3 linked regions of the Homo sapiens genome follow. The protein of the gene in region 1 purifies or fractionates together with the protein of each later gene. This does not show direct contact. Each region holds a gene or a part of one and is shown on either strand. Other genes may lie near its edges.

Region 1 (7,992 bases):
AGGGCCTTTTCACCGTTAAGAACTTTGGATTTTAGTATTACAGGAGGACCCTTCAGGGTGTTTGACTAGGCGGGTATCATACAGTATTAAGGGTGAGGATCCTGAATAAAAAAGGGCTGTTTCCAGGACAAGGGTCAGGAAGCCAGACTTCTTCGAGGTTGCTTGTACCGGTCCTTGTCAGGCAATGTGCTCCTAGAGAATTTCCTTTGCTTTGTGTTTCATCTACCTAGACAGCAGTGTATTCCCCAGAGGACGTCACTATCTCCAGAGAACATATTCCAATTATCCTGGGAAATATGATAATTGGGATTATAACAGTACTCATTTTCTCAATTCTCAGAATGAAAACCTATCCAAGGCAAGAACAAAAGTTCTCCAGAAAGCACTCCCCTCCCAATTGTGAAAACCCAGTTAACATTTTATTAGAGCTACCAGGTTATGTGAAACTGTTGATAGTTTTATCACTTTCCTTTCAAGATATAGGCAGGGGCAGTGGCTCATGCCTGTAATTCCAGCACTTTGGGAGGCCAAGGTAGGTGGATGGCTTGAGCCCAGAAGTTCAAGACCAGCCTGGGCAACAAGGTGAAACCCTATCTCTACCAAAAATACAAAAATTAGTGGGGCATGATAGCATGGACATGTAGTCCCAGCTACTTGGGAGGCTGAGGTGGGAGGATGGCTTGAACCCTGGAGGTGGAGGTTGCAGTGATTGGAGATCGTGCCACTACATTCCAGCCTGGGCGACAGAGCAAGACTCTGTCACCAAAAAAAAAAAAAAAAAAAAAAAAAAAAAATGTGGCCAGGCATGGTAGCTCACACCTGTAATCCCAGCACTTTGGGAGGCTGAGCCAGGCGGATCACAAGGTCAAGAGATCGAAACCATCCTGGCCAACATGCAAAACACCATCTCTACTAAAATACAAAAAATGAGCTGGGTGTGGTGGTGTGCGCCTGTAGTCCCAGCTACTGGGGAGGCTGAGGCAGGGGAATCGCTTGAACCAGGGAGGCAGAGATTGCAGTGAGCCGAGATCGCGCCACTGCACTCCAGCCTGGTGACAGAGCGAGACTCCGTCTAAAAAAAAAAAAAAAAAAATATATATATATATATATATAATATATGTATATAATTTTACATGAAAGAAGGAAATAAATGGGTGCTTTTATTCAACAAATATTTATTGAGCACCTACTCTTGTGCCAGGCAGTCTTCTAGGTGCTAGGGTTGCAGCAGAAAACAAGACAGGCAGAGATCCCTGCCTTCAGAGGGAGCACAACATTTAAGATAAACATGCAAAATGCCTGATATGTTAGATGGGAAGATAAATGCCCTTAAAGAAAGTAAAGCAGGGACAGTGACATTTAGGAGTGAGGATGTTGCAACAATTTAAGATAGGTTGGTCAGGGGAGATTCATTGAAAAGTCCCATCTGAGTGAAAACCTAGAGGAGAGAATTGAAGCAGGCTGGTATCTGGGGGAGTTGTAGGCAGAGGGAATAGGAAATACAAAGGCCCTAAGGTGGGGAAACAGCAAGGAGTCAGGTGTGGGCAGAGCAGAAAGTTGGGGCTGCATGAGCAAAGGGCAGGGCCTGGCCCACATCTCGTAGAGCTTTGTAATATAACCACAACATGCAAGTGTACAATTTAACATTTTATTCCACATCCGATGGCAAAGAAAAATTGACTGCTACCAATATGGTAGTTTCTGACCTGTAGTTCCCTAAATAGAATTCTATAAGTTGTAATACACTTTACTACACATTATCAGAAAAAGACTAAAAGTTCTATTTAGTAACTCCAATTCTGACAGTTCTCATGTCTGGGCTAGAACAAGGGCATGGCAATGGCAGAACAGATGTCTTCTATTTTCTTTGCAGGATTTTCTTTTTTCAGAGGAAAGTACAGGTATGGGCCCACTCAAGTGGAGCTCCAGGTTAGGGGGTTCTGTCCTCACCCAGGCAGCACACAGGAGGGCAGAGGCCCCTCCTAAGGGTACTACAAACTTGGCTCTGATCCATGATTTCAGTTTCTGACAAACACAACATTCAGTGGGGGAAAGAAAATCAGGTATCTGAGAGCTTGCACACAGGCATTCTAGCAAAACCAAAAGCACCTACTGGCTACTTGATGTTAGTGTGAAGATTCTCATGAAATGGAGACAACCATTCTAGGGGTTGAGGTGGCCAGGGGGATGGAGCCTGAGCTGAGAGAACTAAGAAAACAAAAACAATACAACAAAAAGCTGTTCAGCCATGTGTTACCCACACTGGAGTTCTGTTTGCTCATTCTGGTGTGGAACCCAGGGCCCTGGTAAGGGAATGAGGGGACTTCAGGGCATTTGCTTGCCTCAGTGGAAGCAGGGAGGTAAGGGGTTAAGGTGGTGGTACAGCCTGCAGGGCCAGGAGTCTGAACTCCCTCCAGGAGGGGCCCGAGGGGTGTCTTTAGTGTGAGCCACACAAGGGTACAGAGCCCAGAAGAGCTCTGCTTAATATTCATATACTAAGCTTCCACAGACTAAATACACACACACACACACACACACACACACACTCACACACACTTTACTTCTCAAATCATGTACCACTTTCTACCAGATTCAAGAACACCAAGAAGTACTAAAGGGTATCCAACCGTCAAGAAAAAGTTTGACTCCCTCATTAGTTGTAACATACAAGTCTTCCCATTTCCTTACTTGTAAGATAGAGTAATGGACTGGGAAGCAGACAAGGCCCCTGAACAGCCTAGCATCTTACCTGATGCATAGGAGGTTCTTAATCATCTCCCTTCCTCTCCCTCATCCTAACGAAAAATACTAGATTGCTGTCAAATGCTATGGGTATACTTTAAATCAGTGCTTGTCAAACTTTAATGTGCAGCCCAATCAGCTGGGGGAATCCTGTTAAAATGCAGGTTCTGATTCAGTGGAGCTGGGGTGAGGGATAGGAATTATGCGTTCCTTACAGGCTTCCAGGTGATGCTACACTGCTGATTGGGGATCATTCTTTGAGTGGCAAGAATTTGACACTACTAAGTTTCATTACTTAACACAACCATCACATAAAAGCCCTCAAAAGGCACCAGTCTAAACAATAAGCCCTTCCACTTCAGCCTCATGCAGGCACTGACCCTGCCAAGTGTCCAGCACTAGAGAGGCCAGGCATAATAGACATATCCTTTGGTCTTGGGAGGATCACGACACCCTCCTACAGGAAGATCTTGCAATTGTTTCCTCACCTCTTCTGGTTTTTTGATCTTACCTTTTGCCTCTGATGATAATTACCCTTTAATTACCACCCACCACCTTGTCATCTAAATAATTATAGTAAGTGCAGCCTGCACCTCTGCCAGAAGATCTTTAAACAAAATGATAAAAACAAGTTCCTAAACTGCCAATTAAAAAAAGAGACAAAACTGACCCAAATAAAACAGTCATGTGCATCCCACCCACAGTGGAAGACATGGACTTGTTTTTCATATAAACTACAGAAGAAGTTGATTTATTTTGAAACAAGAAAAAGTACTGATTCAGTATTTAGGAAATTGTAAATGTCAGAATATAAATTCTGCAGTCAGGTAGGCAAAACAATCCAACCACACTAAAATCCACCTTAAATTCCTCTTGGGAAGAGCTGCAGGGTCTCTGAACTATTTTTCCTTTATTTGGAGTTTCCCCGATTATACCGGAGGGAGCTGGATAACTTCTGGGTGCATTAAAAGCAAATTATCCATTTGTGGGAGAAGGGCGGGCTTCTCACTGAAAGCAATTAGTAGTTTTCTAATTTCCCAGGTGGGTCTCCATTAACCGCCTAACAAACACCAAGGCTGTCGGAGTCCGACGAATCATGCACCTCTCTTAGGGGGAACTGGTTGCGCTACTCTTTAGAACGCTGTTTTCCCATGGTAGCCTTAAAAAAAACTTACCAATTTTCTGAATTAGGTAACACATTGAATGGGAAAAACCTAAGATAGCACAAAAAGGCGTACAGCGAAAAATTAAGACTCCTTCCTCCCGTCATCCGCCACCTCACTGTCCTCCCTAGAGGCAATCGCTGGTTCACTTCTTTAAACTTTTTATTATGGAAAATTTCAGATACACAAGTAAAGAGACTGTATGATGAGCACATATGCTCGCATCACGCAGCTTCAACGATGAAAAACGTTCTGCCAGCTTGTTTTATTCCTCTCCCCCAGTTTTCATAGGCGTATTTTACAGTCCTGACACCAGATCACTCTGTCAACACATCAGTAGGTCTTAAAAAAAAAAAAACAAAAAACCATAACCACATTACCGTTACCACACCCAACAAAGTTAATGATAATTGCTCAATACCATCCAATATTCTCGGGGCCACTTTCAATCGGTGAGGGGCAGACGGACTTAGAGGAAGGACTGCAGGGCTGGAGGGGCGCGAAAAAGCGAGGGGCGACGCTGCTCGTGGCCTCGGGTGTCCGGCGCCTCGCGGTCCCCGCCATCGTCACCTACGCCGGGCCAGGACCGACCAGGCCAGGTCGAGGGCGGCTCTTGACCACGCGCCCCCTGCCTCCCAGCTCCCGGGCGGCGGCCTCCGCAGGCCCGGCACAGCTGCACAGCCCGCGGTCCCCAGGCACCGGCGGGTCCCTGGAGGGGAAGCGATTGATACAGCTGCCTGCACTGCGCCACCCGCCCGGCTGCCCATCTCCGTGGCACCTGCGTCTCCCGGCTGGGCCGGGAGCTAGAAGTGGCTGCCGAGACCGGGAGGGCCCGGCCAGTCGCCCGCTCCCGCTCCCGCGCCTGGTCCTCGGCCCGCGACCTCGCGGACCTGGACTACAACTCCCGTCGGGCTCCGCGGCCGGGCCAATGGCGGGCGCCGGAGCATGCGGGGCGCAGCGCCTGCGCGGCGGTTTGAGTAAGCGGCTGCGCGATTGGCTGCGGGGTCGGGCGGCCGCGCGGGGACTGTGGGAAGCGGAGTGACGGAGCGAGCGGCTGTTGGAGGAAGGAGGTGGGGGCCGGGAGCGCAAATGGCGTTGAGATGGTTCAGGGCCCTGTTCAAACTCCAGCACTGACCATTCACCGGCGGAAGCGGCGGCGCAGGAGGCGGCGGCGGCCCAGCGGGGGCACACAGCAGGCTCTGTTACCAGCTCCAGCAGTGGCGGCCAGCGAGAGCTAGGCCTGGGCCCGGCCGGCGGCGCTCGAGGCGGGGAGGGAAGTTGCGGGGCCGCCGCTCCTGCCCCCCCAACCGGGCTTCCTATTTACCGAAAGCAGAGTCCCTCGCCTCTCTCGGCTCTCACCTGCCGGCCCTGCTCTCCCGCGCGAGGGTTCCGCGCCCGCCCGCGGGCCGTAGGGAGCGGGAGAGGCGGAGGCGGCCCGTGGCCAAAGCACCCGCCAGGCTCCGAGGGTAAGTGAGGTGTCGGGCGGCCGCCTAGGCCGGGAGGGAGCCGGGAGGGTGGGGGAGGCAGAGGCTGGGAGCGGGCGGTGGAAGTCTCACTGCCTCGCCCACCGGGCCGCTGAGGAAGTTGGGCAGGGGAATGACCTGAGGAACTCTTTTTTTCCCCTTTTATTTTCCTTTTTCGGAGTTCTTTTTCGGGCGACTGCTGATTGACTTAGCTCCCCAAACCCAGTCAAGTGTGTTGATTTCAGCCCCGAGTCCTTTCCCGTGGTTTCATCCGCCTCTGGCCGCCACTGGGGCCTTGCACTGCCTTAAGGATTCGGTGGCAGAGGCTTCCGGGGCGTCGAAAGTGACCTCCCTTTCCTGGGCGGCGCGGGTTGGGAGGAGAAAAGTTGCATTGAGTGTCTAGTCCGAGGGGTCCATCGCGCCCACTGCCCGTGGCGCCCCGGCTGTCCCCAGGTGAGGATTTCTGGTTAGTCAGGTTCGTCCCGTCCGCTTTCCATCTTTAATGGAAGCCCTTAAAGCCTTTGGGGATCGGGAAGACGCTAGATTAGGGTGGGAGTGAAGTATAAAGGCTTTTTGCTTTTTTTTTTTTTTTTTTTTTTTTAAATCACAGCGCACTTCTCTCAAAATTCGACCTGATTTTGGGCTAGGGCAAAAGCCGAACGACCGAAAAGACTTAGTCGTCAATCATTCTTTCCTTTTTAGTTAGGACAGTCTTTGGAGTTTAAAGGTTGAGCAAGATTGTGTACTTGAAACACTTAAAATTTAACTTCAAGGACGTCTGCACACTTATTTTGGAATCTGTAGTGCTTTACGCTTAGATAATGCCATTGCAAAGACATTTTATTGTGGGAAACGATAAAGGCAATCAGGAGGAGATATTATATAATGAACTTCTCTGTACCCATCGCTTGGATTTAGCAGTGACTATTAAACAAATTTATTTCATCTATACACTTCTCATTCCTTAATGTTGGAAAATCGCTGACGTTATTTCATCAGTATTTCACTATGTATTTGTAAAAGACGTGGTCTTTTGGCACAAAATTATTATTATCATTATTATTATTATTTTGAGACGGAGTTTCGCCCTTGTTGCCCAGGCTGGAGTGCAGTGGCGCGATCTCAGCTCACCGCAACCTCCGCCTCCCAGGTTCAATTGATTCTCCTGCCCCAGCCTCCGGAGTAGCTGGGATTACAGGCATGCGCCACCACGCCCGGCTAATTTTCTATTTTTAGTAGAAACGTGGTTTCTCCATGTTGGTCAGGCTGGTCTCGAACTCCTGGCCTCAGGTGATCTGCCCGTCTTGGCTTCCCAGAGTGCTGGAATTACAGGCGTGACCTGCCGCCCCCAGCCAGCACAAAATTATTTTTTATCACATAAAATAATTAAGTCCTTAGTGTCAGGTATTCATCTGAAGACTTCAAACTTTCAACAGTGAATGCTTTGTGGTTATAGAACCATTTTAACAGTTTTTCTGATGTTGGCATAAAGGAACTCAAGTCTAGATTTTTGGTTTGGCCTTTGGTTAGTATTTTTAGATGATTAGCACATAAGTGAATCCAAAACATTCCATCTTTGTTGGTGTGTATGTGTACGTACACTTACAGACCTGCAGGATCTCAGCTTTACATTCTTGAAGGAACAGAGAATCGATTTTTATTTTGTTGTCCGTGGTAGTTGCCCAGTATCCTGTTTTGTTTAGGCTGTACTTAACAAGAAAGACAGTAAGACTTGTTAGTGTTAGAGCTGCAGTGGAAGATGAAATACATCTCCTTCAGGAACACTGTTTTCTCTTAACGCAGATATGTATGATGACTAAATTATTACCTTGTCAAATTAAAATTGGGTTCTCACCAAACATGGGGGGGGGTCTACTACTGAATTTATATAAAACTCAGACAGTGACTCATTATAAATGGTAAGAATTTAAGTTAATCAAGGGAAAACAAGTGTAGATCAAAACATATTCAAAAGTATAGGTCAAATATAATTTCAATTCTTGTAGCTTTCAAAGTAATGATTTTTCATTCCTTAGGCCCTTGTTCACTTTTTAAAGTTATATTCGATGTATTCATGTTTGAACTGTAGAAAGGTCAAAGTGTTAGACAAACGGTTACTGATTGATCATGTTTAAAAAGTACTATAACTTTTTAATAGGCACAGAACTAATGCAAGTAACTTGTTTTAAAAAATGTTTGACTCTTGATTTACTGCCCTAAAGATTTTTTTTTTTGTCCTGTGAAGTAGATAAATCAGGTGAATCGATTTGCCATTTATAAATTGAAAAGGAAAATAAAAGTTGTATGTTTCTATGTCTGTATTAATCCATGAAACAGTGTAATATGCTGGAGCTCACTAGCCCCAGAAAATATAACTCAGCAAATGAGCACAGCACTATCGGGACAAGGCAGATAGGATAAGGATAGTTTCTTTCCCTAGGGAGATGACCATCTAAGGAACATTTTTAAAGTCACAGCGCAAATTACATTACACCAAGAAGCAGAATCTTCAAGATTGGGTTAAAAGCTGCAGGTTGTAAAACATGAGAAAAAGCACCATTTTGGGGACCTTTTTTCTCATGTGAATTAGTGCCATGAAATTTCAAAGAACTAAATTTAATCAA
Region 2 (7,141 bases), on another chromosome or scaffold:
CTCTACTAAAAATACAAAAACTGGCCGGGCATAGTGGTGCACGCCTGTAATCCCAGCTCCTCAGGAGGCTGAGGCAGGAGAATAGCTTGAACCCGGGAGGCAGAGGTTGCAGTGAGCTGAGATCACGCCACTGCACTCCAGCCTGGGCGACAGAGAAAGACTTCATCTCAAAAAAAAAAAAAAGAAAAAAAAGAAAAGAATCACTTGAACCCAGCAGGCAGAAGTTGCAGTGAGCCGAGGTCATGCCACTGCACTCCAGTGTGGGCGTCAGAGTGAGACTCCATCTAAAAAAGCTTGCAAACTTGGGCTTAGAACCAACAGACCAGGTTCTAATCTTACTTTCACTACCACTTAGCTGACCTTCCATTCCCTCACCTGGAAAAAGATGAAAAAAACCACAATTCACGGGTCTAAAAATATGTGCGGCACATACTTCTCTATTGGAGTGGCAGGAGCACAGGCATGGGTTCTGAGAACCACGGACAAGTTATCACACCTCTGTGCCTTAGTCTCCTCATGTATAAAACGAAGCTATTGGCATTTTCCTCCTAGGGTCATTTTGAGAATTTAATTGTAAAGGGTCCCTTGGCTGGGTGCAGTGGCTCATGCCTGTAATCCCAGCACTTTGGGAGGCTGAGGCAGGCAGATCACTTGAGCCCAGGAGTTTGAGACCAGCCTGGCCAACTGGGAGAAACACCAACTCTACTAAAAATACAAGAACTAGCCAGATGGGGTGGCGCACGCCTGTAGTCCCAGCTACTTGGGAGGCTGAGGCACGAGAATCACTTGAACCCAAGAGGCAGAGGTTGCAGTGAGCCAACATCATGCCACTGCACTCCAGCCTGGACAACAGAGCAAGACTGTCTCAAAAAAAAAAAAAAAGAAAAGAAAAAGAAAAAGAAAAAACAGGGTCCCAATAAATAAAGTACTTGACACACAGAGTAGGTACTCAATTAATTAGTCCTATCCTAAGTCTGGACTCAGCTGTCTCCCTCATCACAGCAGGACTAGCACATCATGCAGACCAGGAGTCAGCCTTTTAGGAACCAATATCCAACCTTTGGGCTTCTCCCATCATTTCCAGGGAGGACAACATCATCTCACAACCCCAAGCCTCTCTAATCACAATCAATATGGTAAACATTTTTGTAATATATATTATGGACTGAACACCAGTAAAACGTTTCAAGGAATGTCTGCTTTAGGGTACTCACAGGCCAATGAAGATACAAAAACATGCACCATCAATATAGGACTTAATAAACATTAACGTGTACCAAGTGTCTACGGTATGCCACAGAGGAAGACTCACTCACCAAAGGGACTAAAGGAATGGCTTGTAGAGGTGGGCCTTGAAGAACGGGGGCAAGTGGGGGAGTGCCATAGCCCTTTTCAGAACAGCTGGGAATACAAATCTACTAATGCTGAGGGGACTGAATGCCAAGAGGTACATCCTAGCTCTTCCAACAGGGGCCACTACACTAAAACCCGAGGAAACTGGGTGGACACCAAGCATTAGCCCTCCAGGCCAGTGGTTCTCAAACAAGTTGGGGGGTTGGGGGAATCACACACACCCTCTGTGACATCTAGCAATGTCTAGAGACAGTTTTGATTGTCATGCCTGGGGAGCAGGGGTGCTACTGTTATCTAGCAGGTAGATGCCAGAGATGCTGTTAAACATCCTACAATGCACAGAGCACATCCCACAGCAAAGGATTATCTCGCTGGAAATGTCAATAGTGCCACTGTTGAGACACTCAGTCTCCAGGAAAGGTACTCAGTATGTGCTACTTCAGCAAGGGCAGCCTCTTAGGCTAGGATATCATTCAGCTAGAACATCTCTGGGGTGGAAGAATACAGCAGGATTCCAAATGGACATCTGAGGTGAGAGGAATCCACGGTGTATCGTTTAGAGTTGGGAAGACACAAAATAGAGGCTTTACCTGACCACCCTTTCTAAAGACACCACCTAAGTCACTTTATCACATCCACCTGTCTCATTTCCTGTATAGCACTTATGACAGCCTAAAACCATCTTATTTTCTCCTTATCTTCTTTCCCCTCTGGAATATAAGTTCCCTGTGAGCATGGAGTTGGTTTATTCTATTCTCCGCTGTTTCCACAACTTGCAACTGAATAACTCCTGATAAACAATAAGCATTCAACAAATTTGGTAAATTAGTTAATTTCGGCTTTTGACGGTTTCGGTGGTAGGAAAAGGGCGAGTTCGAGGCAACTACCTCTGACATAGCGGTGGGGGGTGGGGATCGACACCTCAAGCATTCTAAAGACTGGAGCGCTGGGTCTGAAATTCAAAAGTGCCGCCTCCAGAGAAGAGTAGAAAGGAGTTGGAGTGTACCAATGCGAGGCGAGAGAGGACGCTGGGCTGAAACAGAAGTGCACCGTTTGGGACCGAAGGCCACGGGAGAGCTACCAGCGTCCCCACATTCTCCGGAGGGGGTCAAGTAAGGCTGGGAAGCCGGCTCCGGCCGGTCCGGCGGGGAGCCGCGCGGCGGAGGACTGAGCTGGCGGGAAGCTGGTTCCAGACGCGACTCCTTTGGCGGGAGGGGGAAGTAGGCGGGGTAACTGGCAGCTCGGCCTGTACCACTGGGCCGGGGCGGGGGCCGCGCAGGAAGCGGCAAGTGACACCTGGAAGGGGTTCGAGTTAGAGCACCCGCGCGGGGAGAGTGGGTTCGAGCAGAACCCCCTCTGGACGGGCAAGGAACCCGTAAGGGTCCGCGACGTTTCAGGTTACATGGGCTGGGTTGTACTACTCCGGCACCGGATAAGGGGTCCAGGCCGGGACGTGCGCAGGGCCGCGGCCAGGTTTATCTCACCAGAGCCATTGGGTCCAATGATGGCGGTGAACCTCTGAAATGGTCCGATAATCTGTCGACCCTTGTACGACTTAAAGTTCTCAATCTCAATCAGTTTCAGGAACCCCATGACGGCCGCGGCGCCGGCGGCAGTAGGACAGGCCGCGCCGTACGCCCGAGAACTGAGGTAGCCCGCGCGGGAAACGCCGCAGTGCAAGCCGGGCGACCGGCAAATGTCGCGAGAATACGTCCAGGCCTAACGGGATTTTCGCCTTCCGGCAGGAGTGGGACCAGGGGCGGGGACTGATGTTGCGTATACGAGGAGCGAGCTGACGACTGGCGTGGTGCCTCCGCCCCCCTTTCTTGTTGCATGGCAACAACAAACACTTGCTCCTGCGGACCAGATCCCCGGAGGAGTTGTTGCTGGGCGGAGTCAGAGCAGTTCTTGAGGTTCAAGGAGGCGGGGGAGACCTGAGCTCACGCTTGCTGAGACAGAAGTCACAGCAGGATTATGCCCCTCAGGGCAAGAGGAAGGTGGGAGCTCGGCTGTGGCTTTAGCCTGGCCAGCTTTCAAGGCTAGGACAAGGACAGGGTCGGGAATTGGAAGGACCCGGGGGGAGCGGAGAGCTGGACGGGAAGGAGGGGCCAACGGGAGGATTCAGTGTTAGGTGAGCTCAGACTTTGCTAATGGTGGGGTGGGATTGGTGGCGGGACGGGTTGCGAAGGCGGACGGGTTGTGAATGGGACTGGGGCTACTCCCAGGCAACAGGGATACAGGCTGGGGAAGGCTACGGCCTGAGATACTACCCCTATCCCCTGCCTCCCTCCTGTTGTACCAAGCAGAGTTCAGAAACTGCCGCCGTAACCCAAGAACAAAGTTGCATGCAGAGCCAACCTAAGAGCTTCAAAATCGGGATTCCTTACTGAGAAAGGTATTTTGTGTGAACCCCCAGGAGTCAGGGTCCCTAAGCCAGCGCTCTCCACCTCCACCTACCTCTGCCTCCATGCCTCTCCCCCATCCCATTCCCACAGCTCTATACCACAATGCCACCTTACCTCTCTTCCCTCTCTGCTCTCTATCATTAATAAGGCAGGGGCCTTAGCAATCCAAGAAGCTTAAAATGTCAGCTGAATCTTCCCCTTCAGTGACCTTATACTGTAATGGCAGGTGAAACCAGTAGGTAAGTTGGTGCCATTCTCAGACTTAAACATGGAAAGGATCTGGTGGTTGCCATAATTATTCCTTTAACTATTTATTAAATTATGTCCGAAGGCTAGAAAGAGTCCTAAAGACTTAGGACAAGTCCAGGAAAGTGAGGAAGTGGCTGGGCATGGTGGCTGACAACTGTAATCCCATCGTGAGGGAGGCAGGCCAAGGCAGGAGGATCACTTGAGACCAGCAGTTCAAGACCAGCCTGGGCAACATAGTGAGACCCTATCTCTACTAAAAATTAAAAAATTAGCTGGGTGTGGCAGCTCTCACCTCTGGTCTACCCAGGATGCCGAAGCAGGAGGATCACTTGAGCCTGGGAGGTTGAGGCTGTAGTGAGTGGTGTCCGCACCACTTCACTCCAGCCTAGGTGACAGAGCAATACCCTGTCTCAAAAATAAATAAAGGGAGGAAGCTTGGTAGATGGAATCTAGTAGGGGAGCCATAAATGAAGTTCAGCTGGGAGAAACAATCAGGCTGAGGGGATAAAATGGCTAAAAGACAGCAATCTCATGTAATCCATGGGGAAATACTGTTCCCTTTTAAAAGATGAGATGGTGAGCCTGGGTAACATAGCAAAACCCAATCTCTACAAAAAAATTTTAAAAATTAGGCAGGCATGGTGGCACACACCTGTAGTCCCAGCTACTCAGGAGGCTGGGGCAGGAAGATCCTTTGAGCCCAGGAGTTTGAGGCTGCAGTGAGCCATGATTGCACCACTACACTCCATCCTGGGCAACAGAGAGAGACCCCATCTAAAACAAATTAAAAATAAAATAAATTTTATTCTCTGCCTCAGCCTTCCAAGTAGCTAGGATTACAGGTGCCCACTGCCACGCCTGGCTAATTTTTTTGTATTTTTAGTAAAGACAGGGTTTCACTATGTTGGCCAGGCTGGTCTTGAACTCCTGACCTCCTGATCCACCTGCCTCGGCCTCCCAAAGTGCTGGGATTACAGGCGTGAGCCACCGCGCCCGGCCAAAAATAAAATAAAATTTTAAATTTAAAAAAGATGAGATGGCACTTGGGGGGAAAATTAAATTGGATCCTTATCTCACACCATACACAAAATGCAACTCCAAGTGGATTAAAAACCTAAGTGACGCCGGGCACAATGGCTCATGCCTGTAATACCAGCACTTTGGGAGGCCGAGGCAGGAGAATTGCTTGAGTTCAAGACTAGCTTGGGCAATATAGTGAGACCCCATCTATATTAAAAAAAATTAAATGGGGCCAGGTGTGGTGGCTCATGCCTGTAATCCCAGCACTTTGGGAGGCCAAGGAGGGTGGATCATAAGGTCAGGAGATTGAGACTATCCTGGCTAACACTGTGAAACCCCATCTCTACTAAAAATACAAAAATCAGCCGGGCATATATGTTCAACTACTTCACAGTTACAAAATGGAAAACAAAACAAAACACCAAAAAGATCCAAATAGCTATAGGAGGAATTAAAGAATCACGCTCCAAACAAAGGAACAGCACATACAAAGGCCCCGGGGTGGGAACAATTACTGTGTTGGAGGACTTGATCAGCTTGCCTGGAGCACTGTAAGCAAGGGAGACAGTGGTTTGAGACAAATTGGAGAGGTGTGCAGGAACTAGATCTTGAAAGCCCACAGTAAGGAGTTTGGATCTGATTCTAAGTATAGTGGGAAGCTAGTGGAGGATTTAAGCAGGTGAGAGACATGATCAGATTTATGTTTGCTAAAGTTTTTTTGGCTGCAGCTTTGGCTGGGTTACATGCCAAAAGTGAGCTTCCCAAAATATGAAGGAACACAGGCAAATTTAGCTTTCTAGCCTTTCATTTGACCAGAAAATAAGTAATAAAAGTAAAAAAAAAAAAAAAAAAAAAAAAAAGGGTGGGGGGACATATATTTCAGAAAAGAAAGCTGCTTCTGGTTTCTGTGATTGGGCTATAGGAGTCAATAGAGGAAGCTGGAATACCAACATGGAGACAGTTGTGGTTATTCAGGAAGCTGGCAATGGTGGCTTGGATAAGGGTTATTTTGAAAGAAGAAGGAGTGAGGGAAAGGAAGGATTAAAGGATGTCTCCTAGGTTTTTGACCGGAGCAACTTGGTGAATGGTGGTGCCACTTACTGAAATAAGGAAAACTGAATAGAGTATAATGAAAAAGGAGTGTTGTAGATGTGTTTGAGGCTTAGAAAGGTGAGCAGGGGTCAGATCATGAAGAACCTTATAAATCTGGCAAAGGGGGTTGGGCCTTATAAGCACTGGGGAGCCATTGCTTTAAAGGTGCTTTCAAAGGCTTTACGCTGAGGAGTGCCATGGTCAGATTTGCTTCCCAAAGATCACTCTGGTAGCCAGTGCAGAGAAATCCAGTGCAGAGAGGGTAACGTTGGAGCAAGAGAACCCAGTGGGGCTCCTGAGATACTGCCTGACACCAGATTGTGAGGCCTGAATTAAGCTGGTGACAGCAGAGATGGAGGGCACAGATACGAAATATATCAGGAAGTAAAATCAGTAGGAATCAATAACTGCTGAAATATTATAGGGAGAAAGGAATGGGGGTGGCGTGTAGTCAAAGACGGTGGTCGGCACTGATGGGCCATTCCACCTCCCTTTTGCTCCAGATGTATAACATAAAACAGTCAACAGATACCAAGGAAGCAGCAGCCATCGAGGCTAGAAGAAATCGAGAAAAAGAGCGACAAAACCGATTCTTCAATGTGCGGAACCGAGTCATGGGGGTGAGTGGGTAGTAGGGACTGTTGCTCAGGATCAGGGCCACCTCACTCTTACACCTGGAGAGGAATGTGTAACAGTGCCCATGATAGCCCTTCCCCTGATTCAAGTAGGCCCCTAGGGCAGGAAAGGAAAGAGAGGGAGAGAAGGCACCCACCCCTACAGGCCTGGGAAGAGCTTGGGAAGAGGGATAGGTCAGTGCAGGGGAAGAGACTAGGGGAGACGGCTGACCCTTCTCCAGTCAGCTCTGGGCCATGTGACCTGGTTCTTGAGACAGGCAACATGGAGCTAAAAGAGGCCTAAAGAATATTTGGAGTCCGGGTGCAGTGGCTTACACCTGTAATCCCAGCACTTTAGGAGGCTGAGGTGAGCAGATCACACAAGGTCAGGAGTTAAAGACCAGCCTG
Region 3 (7,061 bases), on another chromosome or scaffold:
CTTAAAAGTCAAGGAAAAACTGAAGAACTGTTTCCAACTGAGGGAGCCTGAAATATCAGGACACTAAATTGAAACAAGTAGTTGCCAGGTAGATCTTTGTACCGCAAATATGTTATTGGGACAATTGGCAAGACCTAAATGGGGTCTGAGGATTAGATGGTAATAAGATATCAGTGTTAATTTCTGGATTTTGATGATTGTGTTTTGGTTATGAAGGAGAATGTCCTTGTTTGTTAAAAAACATAAACCAGTTTTGGGAGACAACGGGACAAGAAGTTAACAACTTACTCACAAATGGTTGAGGAAACAAAATTACTTGTTCTATACATTTAACATTCTTGTAACTTTGAAATTCTTTTCCATTTTTTTCTTTTTTTTTGAGACGGAGTCTTGCTCTGTTGCCTAAGCTGGAGTGCAGTGGCCTGATCTCTGCTCACTGCAAGCTCCGCCTCTCAGGTTCATGCCATTCTCCTGTCTCAGCCTCCTGAGTAACTGGGACTACAGGAGCCCACCACCACGCCTGGCTAATTTTTTGTATTTTTTGTAGAGATGGGGTTTCACTGTGTTAGCCAGGATGGTCTCAATCTCCTGACCTCGTGATCCGCCTGCCTCAGCCTCCCAAAGTGCTGGGATTACAGGTATGAGCCACCGCGCCTGGCTCAGTTTTTTTAAATTAAATAATTCAATACTGTAATGACATTCCGTTGTTTAAACACTTCTGTGGCTTCCCATTGCTCATAGGAAAAGGCCCAAACTCCTTAAAATAAACTACATCTTGTCCCTGTCTGCTTTTACATTCCCATTTTGTTGACTCTCTCCTTTTGGCTTGCTACATTCTGGTGATCTTTTTGTTCCTTTAACACCCATGCTCTTTTGAAGTACAAGAACTATGCACTTGCTGTTCAATCTGACTATAATATTGCCTAATTTTTTGCCCATATATGTTAAATTTCTTCCTTTTTATTTTTATTTTTGGTGAAACCTTTGGCAAATCTTTGCCCCTAGAGTAGCTCACAACATCACAACACTATGTATTCTTCCTTCATAATTACAGATTTGTTTGAATAATTGATGTGTCCTCTATTATCCTACTTACTGAGGGCAGAGCTATGTCCTTGCTCACCACAGTAACCCTAATGACCTAGCCCAGAGAACAGTAGACTACTTTAATTAATAAATTAAATGTGCACTTTGGGAGGCTGAGGTGGGCAGATCACCTGAGGTCAGGAGTTCGAGACCAGCCTGACCAATATGATGAAACCTCGTCTCTACTAAAAATACAAAAATTATTTAGGTGTGGTGGCATGTGCCTGTAATCCCCACTACTTGGGAGGCTGAGACAGGAGAATTGCTTGAACCTGGGAAGCAGAGATTGCAATGAGCCAAGATCGCACCATTGCACTCCAGCCTGGACAATAAGAACAAAACTCCATCTCAAAAAATACTAAATAAATAAATAAATGAACTGTGTAAGATTATCAATCCATCTGTGCTCTTGACTCCATCCCTCTCATATCTGTGGCCTCTTTCTTTTTTGGCTTCTACTCAGCTTATGAACTTGCTCAAGCCTTTCCAAGCCTAAAGCATTTCCTCTTTGGAATCCACATCCTCTTCTAGTTACATGAGTTTCCTTCCTCTTTTCACCCAAACTCTGAACAGAGTATATGTACTTGCTATTTCCATTTCCTCAGCTCCTAGCCAATCTTTAGTCTACTACAATCTAACTTCCAGCCTTACCATCCACCAAAATTGTGCTTACTAAGGTCCCTATAACCTCCTAATTGCCAGACCTAATTAACAAGTTGCAGTCAGTATCTTATCTGACTCACTCTAACTTCCTTGATGTTTAGTTCCTTTTGCCCATCTCTGATCATCTCTTTTTTACATCCTGTATGGGTTCTTCTTCTTCAGCCTATTTCTCAAATTAATGTTTATTCATTCAAAAAATATTTATGTAGTACCTACCATATAGTAAGAACAGCTGGAGCCATAACAGTAAATAAAATGAACAAAAATCCACCTTCATGAAGCTTAGATTCTTTTTCCGTGTGTGCTTTCATTCTTGATGTTAGAATTCCCCAAGGTTTTAATCCTTGGTCCACAACTTTACTTATTCTGCACACTTTCTTTGGGTGATCTGATGATTTTTCTCCTATTTTTTCTCCAATCTAGACATTACCCATGAGTTTTATGCAGGGTATATTCACTAAGATATGATCTAGGAACCTTGAACTAGATATGTCCAAGTCAGAACCCTTTATCTTTTCCCTAAACAGATCTTCATTCAGTGGGTAGTATTCAGCCATAAGAAGTCAGAAGTTAAACTTAAATCTTTCCTTTATCTCCCATATCCAACCAATCACCATCTCTTACTTTTTTTTTTCCCCCAAGACAGAGTCTTGCTCTGTACCCAGGCTGGTGTGCAGTGGTGTGATCTTGGCTCACTGCAACCTCTGTCTCCCGGGTTCAAGCGATTCTCTTGACTCCCGAGTAGCTGGGATTATAGGGGTGTGCCACCATGCCCGGCTTATTTTTGTATTTTTAGTAGAGATGGGATTTCACCACGTTGGCCAGGCTGGTCTCGACCTCTTGACCTCAAGTGATCCACCCGCCTCAGCCCCTCAAAGTTCTGCGATTACAAGCGTGAGCCACCACACCCGGCCCACCACCTCTTAAAGCATTTACCCTATTTGTCTAACATTCTCCTGTTCTTTCTCCAGTTTTGTATGCTTTGCATCCTCTCTCCAATAGCTGCCAGGATGATCTAAAATACAATCTCAGTCTCTTTTTTAAAAGCTTCCTCATCACCTAAGAGATAGAAATCTATGTCTTCATCTTGGTATAAAAACCTGTCTGTGATCTGGTCCCTGCTTCATCTTCCAGTTTTCTGTTTGTTTTTCAATTTACTTTAAGATTTTGTTACAGTGTGTAACAAAATGGTTACACACTGTGTCATAATGCTTAACATCATAGTCTCTGAAGCCAGGTTGCTTAGATGTGAATCCTAGCTCTCAAATATTTGCCTCAGTTTCCTCAAATGGGAAATAGATATAGGAGCCACTATCTTGTAAGATTATTTGGAGGACTAAATGAGTTACTACATGTGTGCTTAGACCAGTTCCTGAGACATATTAACTACTATTACATCAGGCTGCTTCTAATGTTTGCCTTTGTTCATTCTACTTCCTCTTCTTTCCTACCAAGTATTAGCTTAGCCATAGATCCTGTGTAGTTTTCCAAGTTTTTAGAAGCTGACACTTGATTTACTCCCCGAAACTGTTACCAATCACAACTTATTTCATGTTAGGGTTGATGTTATAAGCAGGTATCCTCTAGGCTCGGTTTTCTCTTTTAAATATAGAAAATGTAGTAAATATAACCACTTCAATTGTTATATTGCTGTGGGACAAAATGCAGTTCCTGTACCATAGCAGTAGGAGATCAAGGTAAGAGAGAACAACGATAACTCCCCAGTTTCTAGCTTGTATGACTCAGAATCCAGAAAATATTGTAGAAGTCTCAAATGCTTGTTGATACACACGCTTACACAAAATTGTAAATGTTTTAATTTCCTTCAAGTTTCCTACTGCCTCTTCAGTCCGCTAGCCTGATACTGCAATCAGTGTCGCTTCAGGCAACTTCTCCTTTCTCCGCCAAATTTCGCCTTTCGGTCTCACCCACCCATCACCCAGACAAATCCTCCAAAGCTCCGTCTTCCCTTTAAAAGACTCTCAGGGAACTCAACCCCAAAACCCACCCTCTGGGTTTCCCCGTCACCCTGGCAACGGAAGCAGGAAGAGGCGGGCTTCGCCATCCACCCTCCCCGCCCGCGGCAGGCGCCGGCCGCATTGGTGAGGGGGCGCGGGCTGCTTGGCCAGGGCAGTTCCCTCAGCTCCGGGTTGGAGCCGGAGCCGGAGCCGGATCCCGCGCACACCGCCACGTCAACCTAAACCTACACCGCCCTCTCCACCCCACCGCCGCAGCGCCCGCTGGGCCCGCAGCGGGTCTCCCCAGGCAGCGTCCTCCACGCCTTTCCCACAATGCTCCGCGCCAGGCCCCGCCCCGGCTCGCCGTGGAGACCGGCGCGTGAGGAACCTACCGGTACCGGCCGCGCGCTGGTAGTCGCCGGTGTGGCTGCACCTCACCAATCCCGTGCGCCGCGGCTGGGCCGTCGGAGAGTGCGTGTGCTTCTCTCCTGCACGCGGTGCTTGGGCTCGGCCAGGCGGGGTCCGCCGCCAGGGTTTGAGGATGGGGGAGTAGCTACAGGAAGCGACCCCGCGATGGCAAGGTGGGCATGGGCCCGGGGCTAGGGCTTTGCTGGAGCCGGTGGTGGCCTGGGCCCTCCGGTCAGGGAGGGGCGGAATGGCTGAGCGCCTGAACCTCCCTTCCTGTGCGCTCTTAAGACCTGGATATTGTGTTCTCGCTCCCCACCTTCCTCCTCCCTGTTATTCACACCACCCTTCCTCTGCCCAGCGATTCCCTCTCAGTTACTTACACTTTCTCCCTAAGTCCGACCTGAGACTTCAGACACCAGCAACACTTAACAGCCCTGTTCCCCCGTGTCTTCATCTTTACCCCTCTCCCCTCTCCCACTCTGCAGTGATGGCAATGCGAAAGCTTGCGCCTTGCATTTACCTGGCGCTTCCACCTGCCCGGTAGCTCGGGCCACGGGCAGTTCGGCCACACCCACGCTGAGAACAACCCCTGGGCGAGAAACATCTTATCCCAAAGTGTTGATTGAGACTATGCCCTCTCTTTTTCTGATGGTTGTTTTCTTGTTTGGATACTTGTTAATCTCTACATCATTATATTTTTCAAAGGTATATTTTTGTGGAATGAAAAGGAAGTATTAGAAATGAGCTGAAGACCATTCACAGGTAAAGAGAAAAATTTTTAAATATACATTTAGGATTAAATGAAAAACAGAAATGAGGTGCGAGGAGCGTTAGATTTTTCAAAGCATTACGATCTCTTTGGAACTAAAATATAGTGGTTGAAATGTGATATGATGAAGTAATGATTGTTTTTGCCCTGCAGAGAGTATGTCTAAATAACCGATTCCCTTCTCTTTTTGTGTTTTGTTTCTACTTACACCAAACATGAACTTTGCAATAAAATTACACTGGTAACTTACAATTGTTTTTCTACTATTTTTAAAAAATGGCCTCTACTTAAATTCAGTATAAGCACCTTCTGAGGAAACTCCGGGAAGAAGATCGACTGCTGTGTAGATTGTCTATTATAACAATATATTTCACTGTCATTTCTGGTAGGGTTATATGAGAAGTAAAAAACCCTATGTTTCCTTCTAGTCCCTCCCAAGGACATTTCCTACAAGTGAATTCTGCTGAAAATGAAAATTAGACAGCTTTAGGAGGTAAAGAAGTAGCTAAAAGGAAGAGGTATTACAGGCAACGCTATAACTGGGTAGAAAGAGGAAGCACCTGTAGCTCATTGCCACCTTTGTGTTCTGATGCTCGTCAGAGGTCTTTTCTCAGTGTATAAATTGCTGAGGGTGTGTGTGCAAGCTACTTACTACCACTCATGACCTTTTTTCTGCTATCTTCAGTGATTTCACAAATCTAGCTACATGGATGTAGAAAGAGTGAAAAATAGAACCTGGGGCATTCACACTGATTTGCCATTTAATGGAGATTGTATTGCTGACCATGTTCTGTGATAAATAAATTGTGCTATTATTGTTTAGTTCAAAATGTATTTTAACTGCCTGCTTTTCTTTCTTAGATTAATATTTTTGGGGACAGATTTGTGATGCTTGATTCACCCTTGAAGTAATGTAGACAGAAGTTCTCAAATTTGCATATTACATCAACTGGAACCAGCAGTGAATCTTAATGTTCACTTAAATCAGAACTTGCATAAGAAAGAGAATGGGAGTCTGGTTAAATAAAGATGACTATATCAGAGACTTGAAAAGGATCATTCTCTGTTTTCTGATAGTGTATATGGCCATTTTAGTGGGCACAGATCAGGATTTTTACAGTTTACTTGGAGTGTCCAAAACTGCAAGCAGTAGAGAAATAAGACAAGCTTTCAAGAAATTGGCATTGAAGTTACATCCTGATAAAAACCCGGTAGGTAAACGTTTGTTTTTAAAAATATTTGATTATATTTTTGGTACATTTTGATATTTATTTAAATTGCTTTAAATGATCAAATGCTTAAGAATAATCATATGTCAAAATTATAATTCAACTTGTATGCTAGAAACAAAAGCACCAAAATGTTCTGGATTATTTAGGATCCCGTGAAGGAATGTCAGTACCAAAAATTCAGTTCCCTCTTAATTTGTAGACGATTTTCCAACAATTCTATTAAAGACATTAACCCCAAAACAAACGATAATATCCGTGAAGTAGTTGAAGTAGTTTTCTTATTAAAGTAGGTTAAGATCAAGTGTTTTAGAACAGGAACAAAAATATTTTTTTAAAACTCAGAGGGTATGACTTGCTAAAAATAGAAGTAATAGCTAATAATAGCATGTTTTAACTTTGACTGTTTTCTTCTGTGTATGCACAAGTCCACAAACCAGAGTTAGAAAGTTTTATAAATTAATACTTCACAGCAGCTGAATATAATGCCAGTCATAAATATTTATGTACACATTAATGTAAATCTTTCAAAACTAAACTCATTTTAATTTTTATGGTGTTTTTGTAATTTATTTGATTATTTCTTAGTGAGATTTAGCGTTCATCATTAACAAGAAGACATAGTTATAATTTTCTCTTTTCTAGGTAGAAGTTTTAAAATAGGATTATTTTCATTGCATAAAGCTGAGCAAGAGAAACAATATTTCTTTAAATATTGTTTAGTTGATTATCTTTTCCTAAGATCCACATTCTATTTAAGGTTTTTATTTTTTTTTAATTTTTCTTTAAAATTTCAAATAATGATTTTTAAGTTTCCATATAAAAGACAGTAGACCTTCTACCATCCGAGTATTATTTAAATGAAAGCATCCTTCAGAAACAAATTTTATGAAGCACAGTAACAAGGAAGAAACATTTCCGATCCAATTTTGGATTGTTTTCTTTTTT

The links.
Region 2: the proteins of WAPL (region 1) and SMC1A purify together in Homo sapiens (affinity purification with mass spectrometry; 7 studies listed by BioGRID and IntAct, with this or other methods). This does not show direct contact.
Region 3: the proteins of WAPL (region 1) and DNAJC10 purify together in Homo sapiens (affinity purification with mass spectrometry; 3 studies listed by BioGRID and IntAct, with this or other methods). This does not show direct contact.

Annotation. Positions count from the first base shown.
Region 1 is NC_000010.11:86,518,744-86,526,735, reverse strand, and holds the start of WAPL (wings apart-like protein homolog), read left to right. Parts: upstream 1-4,943; 5' UTR 4,944-5,371; intron 5,372-7,992. UniProt on the Homo sapiens protein: Regulator of sister chromatid cohesion in mitosis which negatively regulates cohesin association with chromatin. Involved in both sister chromatid cohesion during interphase and sister-chromatid resolution during early stages of mitosis.
Region 2 is NC_000023.11:53,419,655-53,426,795, forward strand, and holds the start of SMC1A (structural maintenance of chromosomes protein 1A), read right to left. Parts: upstream 3,001-7,141; 5' UTR 2,947-3,000; coding exon 2,838-2,946; intron 2,387-2,837; exon of another isoform or gene 2,284-2,386; coding exon of another isoform or gene 2,241-2,283; intron 1-2,240. Other genes in the region: RIBC1 (RIB43A-like with coiled-coils protein 1), read left to right, coding at 6,623-6,739. UniProt on the Homo sapiens protein: Involved in chromosome cohesion during cell cycle and in DNA repair. Central component of cohesin complex. The cohesin complex is required for the cohesion of sister chromatids after DNA replication.
Region 3 is NC_000002.12:182,712,196-182,719,256, forward strand, and holds the start of DNAJC10 (dnaJ homolog subfamily C member 10 isoform 1 precursor), read left to right. Parts: upstream 1-4,061; 5' UTR 4,062-4,288; intron 4,289-4,495; coding exon of another isoform or gene 4,496-4,569; exon of another isoform or gene 4,570-4,602; intron 4,603-4,820; 5' UTR 4,821-4,877; intron 4,878-5,745; 5' UTR 5,746-5,891; coding exon 5,892-6,095; intron 6,096-7,061. UniProt on the Homo sapiens protein: Endoplasmic reticulum disulfide reductase involved both in the correct folding of proteins and degradation of misfolded proteins.